4 linked regions of the Homo sapiens genome follow. The protein of the gene in region 1 purifies or fractionates together with the protein of each later gene. This does not show direct contact. Each region holds a gene or a part of one and is shown on either strand. Other genes may lie near its edges.

Region 1 (3,500 bases):
ATTGTTCATCACCACCATCTTGTGGGCAAAGATGCAATAATGAAATTTCAGTCTAGACATCTTCAATAAAAGGCAAAGAATCTACTACTTCATTCCATCAAAACTAAAATGCTGCCAATTAAAGACATTATTTTAGGGACCGCTAAGAGAAAATACTGCCAATTAAACTATGACACCATCAACTATAAGATATATTCTAAATTCAGAGATATTAAAATGTGTCTTCAAATCAGTGAAATGTGGCATACTGATTTTCCTCTTCAGTTCTTATTAATGTTAGAGACCAAAAAAGAAGCATCTGAAACTGCAGCATAAGACTTTTTAGGGAAGAACTTAAGAGTCAGTAACACCAGAGCACACACTAAAAGAAATATGGAAATATTGTTCTGTACTTCTTGAAACATCAATTTTACGTAATTTGAGAATATATATGGGCCAGGTGCAGTGGCTCACGCCTGTAATTCCAGCACTTTGGGAGGCTGAGGCCAGCGGATCATGAGGTCAGGAGTTCGAGACAAGCCTGGCCAACATGGTGAAACCCCATCTCTACTAAAATTATGAAAAATTAGCAGGGTGTGGTGGTGCGTGCCTGTAATCCCAGCTACTCAGGAGGCTGAGGCAGGAGAATCACTTGAACCCAGGAGGTGGAGGTTGCAGTGAGCCGAGATCACACCACTGCACTCCAGCCAGGACAACAGAGTGAGACTCCATCTCAAAAAAAAAAAACAAAAAAACACTATATATATAAATGATGTTGGCATTTAAAAACTGCTAGGATTCATCCCAGCTTTAAAATTCTTTTTTCAGATTTTAATAGTCATATACATTATTAAATTCACCTTCAGAATAAATGCAAACATTTAGTAACAATGACAAGAAGGGTTAACATTTCCTAAACACTAAAAAACACTTTTTAAGCATTTTAATCCCATAAAATCCTCATCATCCAGGTGAAGGTGGACTTGCAACCCAGAACTGGCTGACCCCAAGGTCACCTCAAGGTCTACCACAGGATACCATGCTGCCTCCCAAACACCACCAGAGCAAATCACATGAGTGGCTTTGATATACAGATACAGACCTAGACAAGCCCACTTCACTTCTTTCCTTCTTACCTGGCTGAAGACTTAAACCGCTCTAAGAACTGAAGCCTCAAACTCTCATGGCCGGGAAGGTCAATCAAGGTCAGACTATTGCCCTGGGGATGGCAGCAATAACATTAACGTTTCAATACAGTTCCACGTTCACAATATAAACCTTTAGTATCATATATTGGCTACCAAACTGGTACCTAATTAACCAAACAAATGTTCACAAAGCATCTTCTACTCATAAAACACTAGTCAACGTTCTGGGGATGTAACAGTGGCCAAAGACACGGTTCCTGATCTGGCAAAATTTATGAGAAAGGTGAACATAATGTAAAATTACACATAAATATAAAATGAGAACACTGATAAATGTTTTGAGGGTACAGGAAAAACCTGTCTGGGGGAGTCAGGGAAGCATGATCTACCTGAGGCTTGGGAGATAAACCAGTGTGAGTATAGCAAAGTAGGAGTACTGTATGAGTATAAGCAAAAATGTGAAAACAGTAACAAGTACTCATAAACTAATAATGTAATATAAGAACTTACAATTTTTCATAGAGCATATTACTCTTACTGGGATCTCCAATCTTTATAACAAAGTACACTTTTATCATTTCCACCCTTAATCTAATTATTTAAATATTTATCTTCCAGACATATAATTTACTTGTTCCAACTCCGTCAGCATTTGTGTCAATTCCTGAGCCCCTACTGAGCAAATCTACGATGCACCCTAATAAGTTCTATTCACCATGCCAGGCTGCCATTCCTGAATATAAGGTCAAGGCCTGGAATGGTGAATAAAGTTTATATTCAGTGTAAACGTGGCTGTGCTCAACAATAAGACTCTTAGATGTGGCCTGGTACATGCAGCAGACCATCATTTCTTACATGTTCTACATTATCCACAGCCAACCATACCCACAGTTCAGAAGCAGGCAATCAGTATCCTGCACAGATTTAACACAATTCCAGCTGGGTTTATTATGACCTTACCTTTCACATAGCCTGTGCATTTCTTTATAGACAAATATGTTTTTTATTAGTCCCTCTCTTTTTTTTTTAAGTACTGTTAAGAGTCTGGAGATCCCAGGTTGGGACTTAACTGCTCCATTTCAAAAGCAGCACTATACCACACACCCTAAGCAATTTGGAAGATACATTACTAGGTATATTACTATCTAAAGAGATTAGATCGAAAACGTAAGGGGGTAGGAGAAAGAGTGAAGAGGGAAGGGAAAAATGCTCTATATATTCAGTAGAAATATTGATAGAATAGAAATATAGTAGAAATATAGAATAACAGAAGCCACATATGTAATTTTAAATATTCCAGTAACCATAATAAAAAAGTAAAAAGAAATTGGTAAAATTAATTTTAAGTTATTTAATCTAATATATCCAAAATATTATCTTTTAAAATGTAATAAAAAAAGAAATTATTAATGATACTTTACGTTCTTTTTTTCCATACTAAGTCTTCAAGATCTGGTGTGTACTTCACACTTACAGCATGCCTCAATTTGGACTAGTCCTAGTTTAGGTGCTCAACAGTCACATGTGGCCAGTGGCTACATATTAGAAGGTACAGATTTAAAGCATATCCTGGAGTATCCTAAGTTAAAAATCTAGTGCAGGTACTAGATGATCTTGCAAACCTGGAATTTCAAAATCTGAATCCTTGGGAGTTTAAAAAGGTCTGGGCCACAAAGAGTGTCATCATTGAAAAAAAAAACAAAGATATCGCTAAGATATTTAAAAACATGTCCCTTTATTTTTCTTTACAATCTTTAATTCTGGAGGCATGAGAAAGGGGAAAGAAGACAAAGAGAAGAAGAAAAGGTCTCAAACCACAATTCTAATTCATCCATCTATCCATCCACATCCTCCAACGAGCCCTCACTCCACTCACTCACCGAAACTTATTACATGGCTGGGTGCAGTGGCTCACGCCTGTAATCCCAGCAATTTGGGAAGCTGAGGTGGGCGGATCACTTGAGGTCAGGAGTTCAAGACCAGCCTGGCCAACATGGTGAAACCCCATCTCTACTAAAAATACAAAAATTAGCCAGGCATGGTGGTGGGCGCCTGTAATCCCAGCTACTCAGGAGGCTGAGGCAGGAGAATCGCTTCAACTCGGGAGGCAGAGGTTGCAGTGAGCCAAGATCATGCCACTGCACTCCAGCCTGGGCAACAGAGTGAGACTCCTGTCTCAAAAACAAACAAACAAACTTATGCATTACAATCGGTTTGGTAGTCACTGTCTACATTCTGAAGTTACAGAGGTATGTAAAATGTCTTTCCCATGATTCCTTATATTTTTTTTTTTTTTTTGAGACTTAGTCTCGCTCTATTGCCCAGGCTGGAGTGCAGTGGCGCAATCTTGGCTCACTGCCACCTCCACCTCCC
Region 2 (3,500 bases), on another chromosome or scaffold:
CTGATTGATAGATAGCCTATGTATATTGAATTTGACCTTTTATTTGGAATATCATTCAGAAGTAACTTACATTTTTTCTATGCCTGGGGACATTATTTTCTATACCATTGCTATCATCTGATTTCCTGCACAGAAAACAAAAAAGAAAATTACTAAATGCTTATATTATATAAAATTAAGTCAGTACATCACTGATATGGCTATCAGGTTAAAATGTAAAATGTCAATACGGACAGAATTCTTTCTTCCTAAAAATGTTTTACTTACAATGTTGAATTTATTTTATGGCATTGCTTGAAGAGGAGCTGTTACCACAAATGATAGTGACAAAGGCTTGTTGATTTTATGCACAGGGAGAATTGCTTCTCCCCAAGCATGAGTGAGGACTTGGGCGTAAAGACCATAACTTATGTGTGGTTTTGGAAACATGCAAGGTAATAGCCAATTAGGAGGTCAGCCAACATGTGTGATATTGGTGCTATACATTTGTATGCTTATTACACTGAAATAGAGGTTAAAAATGGTTCTTTTTCCACCCAAAGTTTATCAGAGCAGGACTACAAATGTGGGCCTCAGATTCTAAAGATTGACGGAAACTAAATAACCAGTATGCATAATGAATACCTTGCCCTTCAAGGTCTTGGGGGCAGGCGTCAATTATCAAATCATAATGCATATTATAAGACAGTGTTACTTACAATTAACTGATAATTAATATTTTCTAAAAAAAAAGAAATCCCACGAGTGCTTGTTTTTCTTTTGTGTGTACTCTTCAAAAGCAGAATAATGGCCACTAAGAAAACACCTCAGCAACTATTGCAAGAAATGGTTTGAGGGACATCAAGAAGCTCATTGTTCTGAATGATTTCAAGTGCCCTTGATATTTGTATACAATCTAAAGATAGTGAAATAACCTGAAGAAAAACTAAACACCTTCAGTGATCCTTATGGTGCTATACAAGATGAGCAAAATGATGTACATTGATCCAATTTTCAGAAAAATAATTCATCTTTTACACTATATATTGAATCCATTTTACATTGTTCAGAAGTGATGGTCCATTCCACACTGTTCTGGTACCATCCTTTCAGAGTGTGTTTTAAATCAGAATGCAACTTCCAAATGTGAGCTCAGAAGAATGGTTAGAGACAGTGGGAGGCAGAGCTCGGAGAATAGAGGAATCCGAGCAAGGTTCTGTTTTCAAATATGTCAATGACTGTCACGTTTGTTATATGATGCTAAGAACAAGAAAAACGCCAATACGTGGAAATAGGAAAGATTAAAAGTTCAAATCAACATAAATAAGATATCTATGTTCTCCAGAAAGAGAAGGGATTCTCTTGGGAGAGATACAATTCCCTTCCAACTATGGGAGTCTATGATTCTAAGACAACATTGCTTTTCTCTATCTGGTGTTATAGGATTTCTGATGTAGTTATTTTGTGCCCTTAACTTGGAAGCTCATATCATATTGGTTTATTTTAGCAGCCTATGTGAATGGAGTCAACATGATTATCTGAATAATGTCTACAAACATCTAAATGACAACTGTCTGCTCCACTCCTGCTATCCATGCCTGTAACACTCACTCCATAGAGCTCCTGTTGGCTGATAAACTCTAAGTGCCATTTTGTGTTAGTTATAGTTGCTCAGGCCTTCCACTTCTCAGGTTTCTTGCAGCAACTTTAATCTAGCCTCGTTTTCCTGGACTCCAGCCCTTGGCTCTATTGTTCAGGCTTTAATCCCAGTCTTGGACACCTCTGTCACTGGCCTCCATACTCAGTTCTCTGGCTTCGAGGAATTCGGAACTCCCATCTTTGCCAAACTAAATTACATCCCTGGTGATTTTATTTCCAGACCTCCTCATGCTTAACTCTAAACAAAGGCTGTGTAAGAGAACCTGTGGCACAATTTGTGTTCTCTGAATAATAATAACTAATAGAATTCTAGGCCAGTGATTTTCAACAGACAGAGGATCAAAACCATTTGTAGATGTTTTCAAGAAATAACAGATGCCATAGCCCCAACCCAAGAGGTTCTGATCCAGGAGATTCAGCAAGGTCTGAGCAACTGTATTTTTTTAAAGAGGCTCTTAAGTGATCAAAAATTGCCAGGCTTGAGAACTATTGCTTTAAAAATAATAATATTAAATACTTCCTGATGGTTACTGCACACCTTCTGTGCACCATAACCTATGCTATGCATTTACACATATATAATATTCATTCCATCCAACAACCTCATATGGTGAGTACTATTATTAAATCCATTTTGTAGAGAAGAAAGCTGAAGTACAGAGAAGTGCAGGTAGTAAGTGATGAAGAAGAATTCTCACGCAGGTAGGCAGACTTGGAAAGCCACTTTCCACCACCACGTGGACATATACAGAAAATACTCCTCTGCCTTTTCTCCCCCTAACTGCAAACATTTCATTCAATTTTATGTTTCCCTGTATTTTACCCAAGTGAAAATTAATCTGTAAAAAATAATACTTACAGCTGTTCAATCTGCTCAAATTCTTTCCCCTCATCTGTGTAACAAAAGAAGAATTTGACTGTGAAGTTGGTTTGTCACTTTTATGGAACATATATGCTCAATTAAACCTCCTTCCTAAGTAAGTAAGTACTATGCTGTTTCTCCTGTTTGGAATGAAGGAGAGACATGCTACCTTAAACACCTACACCTCCTTTATCTGCACTACAGACCTTATCTGCATTTCTGATCAAACATAGTTTAGTGGCCTGGTATTTTCAAAAACATGACTGCTTAGTTTGTCATTATTTAAATCATTAAAAATTTAGTATAAAATCAGGAAAGAATACAGGACGTAAGGTCAATTTTCTAGAGGATTACTGCTTTATCAACCTGTAACCCATCAGGCACAGGCCGCAAAAATAGGACATGACAGGATGGTCTCTCTTTAATGAGAACTCTGGAATGGTTAATAAAATATTTTTTTAAATGATAATCTAAGTGAAAGAAAAATTGTTTCTTTTAGACTTTTTATATTAAGCTATCATAGATTTTTCTAATATTCCAGTGCCAGAATACATATCACCTAATTGGTACTTAGGTACCAGTAGCACCAAAAAAAAAAAAAAAAAAAAAAAGAGGGGGGTGGTGGGGGAAGAGAAAGAAAAAAGGCATTTTTAATACTAAGTTTTTTCAGGAATTGAAACAGGAAGACCATGGGTATATGTTTCCAGCTCACTGTCACCATTGTTGTAAACCTAAATACTGCTCCAAATAAGAAAATGAAGATTTTCCCCAAAAATCCTAAAGTCATTGCAATGTATCAAATCATAATCCATATCATAAGTAAATGATACTTATAATTAACTGATAATACTTTCTAAAAAAAACAAAAAACAAAAAAAAGAAATCCCACCTGAGTGCTTCTTTTTCTTTTGTGTGTACTTTTCACAAAGCAGAATGGTGGCCACTAAAAGAATCACCTCAGCCACTATTACAAGAAATGGTTTGAGGGGCACCAAATAGC
Region 3 (3,500 bases), on another chromosome or scaffold:
TCTCTACTAAAAATACAAAAAATTAGTCGGGCACGGTGGCGGTGGGCGCCTGTAATCCCAACTACTTGGGAGGCTGAGGCAGTAGAATGGTGGAAACCTGGGAGGTGGAGCTTGCAGAGAGCCAAGATCACGCCACTGCACTCCAGCCTGGGTGACAGAGCGAGACTCTGTCTCAAACAAACAAACAAAAATTAACGAAAACTAAATTGAGTAGAAAATTATAGTCAAACACCATAAATGAATAGAATAGATTTTGATTAATTCCTAAAGTAAGCCATTCAGGAAACAGCTGTAGTATCTGCAAAGAAGTCTTCGCCCACCAAGTAATCCCTGTAAATAAAAACATCCTACCTGATTAGATCTGGTTCGGCACCCTCATTCTTAAAGGATGCCAGAAGTAGTCTCTCTCGAGTTACAAGATCATCCAAGAGGTTCTGTCTTCGGTCCCCTTCAAGCTGTGTTCTGCAGATATCTTGTTAAGGTTCAATGGTGAATAAATGACCTCGTTTTAACTATTACATTATTAAGTTAGCTCTTCAAGTCAGTTGTGGCTTTTACAGACTGTAATCACTACTACCCAGAAGGGATGCGCACCACTCTTGCGTTTTTCCTGCTCTGACCTTCACCTTCACCAGGCCGTCAGGTAAAGGACCTTGGCAGGACCATCGCAGAGGCACTTATAAACACTGACGTGGATCATGACACAAGTTTTTCATTGAGAAATATACCAGGTAAATATTACTTTCCTCCCCGTGACCAAACTTATTTACTTATTTTTGAGACAGAGTCTCGCTCTGTCGCCCAGGCTGGAGTGCAATGGCGCGATCTCGGCCCACTGCAACCTCTGCCTCCCGGGTTCAAGCAGTTCTCCTGCCTCAGCCTCCCGAGTAGCTGGGCTTACAGACGTGCACCACCACAACCGGCTAAGTTTTGTATTTTTATTAGAGACGGGTTTTTGCCATGCTGGCCAGGCTGGTCTCGAACTCATGACCTCAGGTGATCTGCCTGCCTTGGCCTCCCAAAGTGCTGGAATTACAAGGCGTGAGTCACCACGCCCAGCCCCAGTGACCAAATTTAAATGACTTCTCCTGCCAATGGTGCAACCTGGCTCAGTGATTCCTTAGGTTTTGAGTTATATGTGTGTGTCAGTGTTCCAGGGCATTTTCCTACATATTAATACCCTAAGATGCTCTGTTTAAAAAAGTGGGGGCGCTGGGGGAGAGAAGTTCTCTATATTGCTCTCTTTCTTCCATGTTAATATCTATTAACACACCTAGGATATTTATAAAGTGCTACTTTATGCAACAGATTTGCTCTATAAATTGTTACCATCAGTTCACTATTTAAATACATTGCATGATTTGTAAAGAAAATTACAAAGAGAATCATTTTAATGTGTGAATCTAGCAAACACGCTAGACTAGGAGCCCCAGAGGCAGAGTTGTAGCCCTATTCCACTATCTATGCTCTTGAACCAGTTATTTCACCTTTTGGGATCTCTCTTTCTTTATATGTAACACTAAATAGTCTCTAACATCTTTTCCACAACAATTCATAAGTGATGGTTAAAAAAAAAAAACCAAACAACCATCCTTCTGGGAAATGTAGTCTTTGGAAAGAAACCTACAATTCACCAATAGGTGGACGAGAATGCGGCGCGTGCGCATGAAGCAAAAAGGGAAGTGGCGTCTGTCAACAACCGGCGCCACTTCCCTTGGACTAAGTACAAAGTTTTATATACTAGCTTTCTTGATGCAAACTACAAAAGTGGTTTTTTTTTTTTTTTTTTTTTTTTGGAGACGGAGCCTTGTTCTGTCTACAGGCTGGAGTGCAGTGGCGCGATCTCGGCTCACTGCAACCTCCGCCACCCGGGTTCAAGCGATTCTCCTGCCTCAGCCTCCTGAGTAGCTGGGACTACAGGCACGTGCCACCACGCGCAGCTAATTTTTTGTATTTTTGGTAGAGACAGGTTTTCACCATGTTGGCCAGGATGGTCTCGATCTCTTGACCTCATGATCCGTTCACCTCAGCCTCCCAAAGTGCTGGGATTACAGGTGTGAGCCAGTGCGCCCAGACACAAGTTTTTGTTTGTTTGTTTTTAGGCTGAACTGTGTCTATGTGTGTGGTATGTTAAGAAACACAGAAGGGCTGGACGCGGTGGCTCAACGCCTGTAATCCCAGCACTCTGGGAGGCTGAAGTGGGCGGATCACAAGGTCAAGAGATGGAAACCATCCTGGCAAACACGGTAAAACCCCGTCTCTACTAAAAATATAAAAACTAGCCAGGCGTGGTGGCGTGCGCCTGTAGTCCCAGCTACTCGGGAGGCTGAGGCAGGAAAATCGCTTGAACCCGGGAGGCGGAGGTTGCAGTGAGCCGAGATCGCGCCACTGCGCTCCAGCCTGGTGAAAGAGCGAGACTCTGTCTCAAAAAAAAAAAAAAAAAAAAGAAAAAAGAAACACAGTAAAGGATATGTTTGGAAACAACTTCTGCCATAAAATGAATGAGTGGAGAAAGCTAACAAACACTTTTAAAATATATCTGGCCAGGTGTGGTGGCTTACGCCTGTAATCCCAGCAGGTCAAGGCAGGTGGATCACGAGGTCAGGAGTTCGAGACCAGCCTGACCAATATGGTGAAACCCCATCTCTACTAAAAACACAAAAATTAGCTGGGCATGGTGGCGCACAATCGCAGCTACGCAGGAGGCTGAGGCAGGAGAATCACTTGAACCCGGGAGGCGGAGGTTGCAGTGAGCCGAGACTGTGCCACTGCACTCCAGCCTGGGTGACAGAGCAAGACTCCGTCTCAAAAAAAAAAAAGAAAAAAGAAAAGAAAAGAAAAGAAATACACACTAAAACAAGATACCACTTCCACCTATCAGATTAGGAAACTGAGAAGACAGTTTTGGAAAGGGACAAGGAACCAGACACTCTCATACATTCTTTCCTTTTCTTTTCTTTTCTTTTTTTTTTTTTTGTTTTGTTTTGTTAAGATGGAGTCTTGCTCTATCATCCCAGGCTGAAATGCAGTGTTGCAACCTTGGCTCACTGCAACCTCCACTACCTGGGTTCAAGCAATTCTCCTCTCAGCTCCCCAAGTAGCAGGGATTACAGGTGTCCACCACCACACCCAGCTAATTTTTGTGGGTTTTTTTGAGAGACAGGATTTCACCATGTTGGCCAGGCTGGTCTCAAACTCCTAATCTAAAGTGACCCTCCTGCCTCCCAAAGTGCTGGGATTACAAGCATGAGCCACTTCACCTGACCTTATACATTCTTTCTTTATTATTATTATTATTTTTTGAGACAGTGTCTCCCTCTGTCGCCCAGCCTGGAGTGCAGTGGCATGATCTTGGCTCACTGCAACCTCCAGCTCCAGAGTTTAAGCAATTCTCCTGCCTCAGCCTCCCAAGTAGCTGGGATTACATGCACATGCCACCATGCCCAGCTAATTTTTGTGTTTTCAGTAGAGATGGGGTTTCACCATGTTGTCCAGGCTGG
Region 4 (3,500 bases), on another chromosome or scaffold:
TTGACTGAGACATATCTCCGATACTTTTTGGTTCACATGACTCAACAGAAACAGAAGACCAGGGAGCCGTGTAGCTTTGTGCAGTGCCATAGCTCCTCTGAGCCTCAGTTTCCCCATTCCTGACATGACCTCTCAGTGTCAGAGGCGCTGGAACCAGAGCGACTCCATTTTGAGTGAGGGCTGGGAAATGAGGCTGGGGCCTGCTGGGCTGCATCCCCAGAAAGAGGCATTCCGAGCCTCTAGATGTTTAGTTGTAAAGTAGAGGTTCCTCTTCAAAGACTTTCCTACCGATCTAATTAGGAATAAATAGTAACTTCTCTTAGAAGCAAAATTTATTCAAAGACCTGTGCTAACATTATTAAATATCTGCTAGCAGTAATAAAGAAAGCAATGTACTACTTTAGGTTCTTAGCTCCCACAATTTAGCCTAAATATTTGCCCTGGCATGCTTATACTGGTCCAAGCGGGCATTAGGTCATAGCCTGTTCCTCTTCCTTATTTGAAGGTGTTTTTACCTTTCTCAGCATTCCACAAATTACTTCCTTCCTTTGTTCTCCTCTGCCTTTGCCTCTTTTAAAAAGTTGTACGTTGCTAGCCAATCGGGACAGATACAGAATGTGAGGTCCCATCCCAGTCAATGGAAACCAGAGACGGCAATAGGGTGGACGCGTCAGGTTATAAATGACCCTGTTTCCTTTGTTGGGTGAACTCTTGTGGCAAAGCTGATGGCAAGTGTGTCCTTTCTGCAGGAAGTAAAAATGTCCTTGCTGAGTAAATTAAATTTATGTTCAACTGCTGTTTCTTTACGGCACCGGGGAACAAGCATTTCAAACAATTTGGTGGCAATCCGTACAGGGCTACATTCTCCTGCGGGGGCGGTCTCTGTTCCTCTCTCATGAGGGAGCACGCTCCTCTGCCTCACTGCAGTGGCCTCAGGGATGAGAAATTGAGACCCACCTGGTGTGACGAATAAACCCGGACTCTCAGCAATGCAGAAAAAAAAAAAAAAAAGAAACTGGCCAGCAACCTAAGGTAAAGGATGCTCACATACCAGGGCTGCAACTCTGTGCACAGACCAAGGAAGGAGAAGCCACAGAAGCTGGTAAAGTACTTCCTTGGTGGTGAAATTCTGGAGGGCTGAATGTGTGTATGTGTGAATGATCACAGACAACCCTGCTTGCAGTGTGGTTTGTGTGGACGGTGACAAGTCCTCCTGCTGGACAGTGAGTGGGTCCCCTCCATGGTTCCGGTTCTGTAGTGACCTCATATGGCTTAGGGCAGGTCCTGCTGTGGGATTTATACCAGCACGCCTACACTAAGAGGGGCCTAATTCTCCCTTGGGGGGGCGACCAGAGAGGACAACACAAGTGGGAAGTATGCAAGGGACCTTTGGGGGGAAAGGAGGAAACAGGTCAACCTCCCAGGGCAGGCAAGGCAAGACACCCCTGGTTTGAGGGGTTAAGTCTTCCATTAATTTCAGGGGGTTGAACCTCACACAAACCTCCAGTAGTTAAAATATATATATATATATATATATATATATATATATATATATATATATTCAAAACTCCCTTTTCCCCTCTTCACAGGGAAAGAAAAAGGCTAAGCTTCACTCCCGCTGGTTGGTCCCCCAGGGGAAGGGGAAGGAGAGGGGGGAAAACAGCAGCATAGGTGGCTGGCAGAGACAAAGGAAAGACCAGCAGACAGGAAAAAGAACTAGGAGAGGAAGTCAGAAAAAAAGAAAGCAAAAACAGCAAGCACAGCGGCGCCAGGAAGAGAGCAGAGGAGGTGAGAGGGCATAATTCTTGCAATTTGTGGCAGGCATCTGCCAAGCCTCTGGGCTGCCGGGGCCGGACTGCAGCCATGCAAATCCCACCCAGCCCGAGAAACTAAGTGTAGGAAGAAAGGGGAAAAAAAGTAAAAAGGGGAATGGTGGGGGTGGATAGAGAAACTGACGGCAGTGCATGCCCAGGGGCTGGTGCCATTGCCCGGCCCTGCTGCTGCAGGAGCGGGAGAACTCAGGAGGGAAGAAGGAAGCAGGGGATGAAGAGAGTGAAGAGAGAGAAGAGACAGAAAGAGATTAAAATACAGAGGGAAAGAATAAGAGAGAAACTGGAAGAGACAGAAATCAAAGGAAGACATAGAGGGTGAAACTGAGAAAAAGAAATAGCGTAAAAGGCAGGCAGAAAGTTAAGACATGTTGAAGATTGTGAAAGTTGTAAGAAAAGCTATAAAAGGGAATTTATGCAAGAAATAGTGTATAATTTAAAAGTAATTAGGCCTCCTGAATGTAAAATTATTTAAAAAAAAACAGTTTATATACAAGGTATGTCAGAAAAATAAAATAATACTTTTAATAACAGGATTATAAGGAGACATAATATGGATTTTTACCTACATTAAAAGGTTAAAAAATATATTTTGTTTTAAAGGTTTAAGCAAGTTTTAAAATGTTAATTGTAAAGGAAATTCTGTGTGTAAACATATTGGCTAAAGCTAAAGGGGTATCATGCAGTTTTTCTGTGAACTGGATGTTAAAAGCACAATAGATTTTTCTTAAAGCACTAACCCGCTCTTTAACAAAAATTATAAAAGCTTAAAAAGAGTCTATAAAAATCTTACCCTATAGTCAGACATTAAAATTGAATAAATAATGTCTACAAGATTTTATTAAGTTTGGCCGGGCACGGTGGCTCACGCCTGTAATCCCAGCACTTTGGAAGGCTGAGGCGGGCGGATCACGAGGTCAGGAGATCGAGACTATCCTGGCTAACACGGTGAAACCCCATCTCCACTAAAAAATACAAAAAATTAGCTGGGCATGGTGGCGGGCGCCTGTAGTCCCAGCTACTCAGGAGGCTGAGGCAGGAGAATGGCGTGAACCCGGGAGGCGGAGCTTGCGGTGAGCTGAGATTGCGCCACTGCACTCCAGCCTGGGCGACAGAGCAAGACTCTGTCTCAAAAAAAAAAAAAAAAGATTTTATTAAGTTTAACATTAATAGCACATTAGTATAAAGGTAAAATTTAACTTATCTGGTATAAAATCATACAAAAAGCACTGTCAAATATAAAATGGTGTTTAGCTTTCTTAAGGCCTGAAGGTGGCCAGGTAAGTCACAAGGCCCCTCATGTCCAAGGCCACAGTGCACAGGGGCAGTGAAGGCCCCAAGAAGGCCAAGAGCTTAAGAGGAGGCAGGGCCGCAGTGTCCCCTGGGCGGCGCTGAGCAGGAATGGAGCGGGAGGCATCACCATGGGGCCTCAAGCCCCAGGATATGCAGCAAAAATGATATACTTAATTTATCTTCCAGTTTCCCTTCCCTCAGAACTAAAAGACTTTTAGTTCTAGGTACCACCCCTAGAATTTCCAGTACACCAGCACCAGCCTGAAAACCACGTCCTCATCAAAAGACAGAAAGAAAAAACTTGAGCCAGCCTGGGAAGAACCCTATTTTATGCTGTTAACCACTGAGACTGCCATCCGCAGAGCCAAGAAAAAAACG

What was found. The genes of interacting proteins can lie anywhere in the genome.
Region 2: the proteins of SRPRB (region 1) and EMB purify together in Homo sapiens (affinity purification with mass spectrometry; 4 studies listed by BioGRID and IntAct, with this or other methods). This does not show direct contact.
Region 3: the proteins of SRPRB (region 1) and STX8 purify together in Homo sapiens (affinity purification with mass spectrometry; 4 studies listed by BioGRID and IntAct, with this or other methods). This does not show direct contact.
Region 4: the proteins of SRPRB (region 1) and THEM6 purify together in Homo sapiens (affinity purification with mass spectrometry; 4 studies listed by BioGRID and IntAct, with this or other methods). This does not show direct contact.

What each region holds. Positions count from the first base shown.
Region 1 is NC_000003.12:133,808,815-133,812,314, reverse strand, and holds part of SRPRB (signal recognition particle receptor subunit beta), read right to left. Parts: intron 1,199-3,500; coding exon 1,116-1,198; intron 1-1,115. UniProt on the Homo sapiens protein: Component of the signal recognition particle (SRP) complex receptor (SR). Ensures, in conjunction with the SRP complex, the correct targeting of the nascent secretory proteins to the endoplasmic reticulum membrane system.
Region 2 is NC_000005.10:50,399,789-50,403,288, forward strand, and holds part of EMB (embigin precursor), read right to left. Parts: coding exon 3,390-3,500; intron 2,532-3,389; coding exon 2,498-2,531; intron 126-2,497; coding exon 71-125; intron 1-70. UniProt on the Homo sapiens protein: Plays a role in the outgrowth of motoneurons and in the formation of neuromuscular junctions.
Region 3 is NC_000017.11:9,544,821-9,548,320, forward strand, and holds part of STX8 (syntaxin-8), read right to left. Parts: intron 463-3,500; coding exon 352-462; intron 1-351. UniProt on the Homo sapiens protein: Vesicle trafficking protein that functions in the early secretory pathway, possibly by mediating retrograde transport from cis-Golgi membranes to the ER.
Region 4 is NC_000008.11:142,730,223-142,733,722, reverse strand, and holds part of THEM6 (protein THEM6), read right to left. Parts: intron 1-3,500.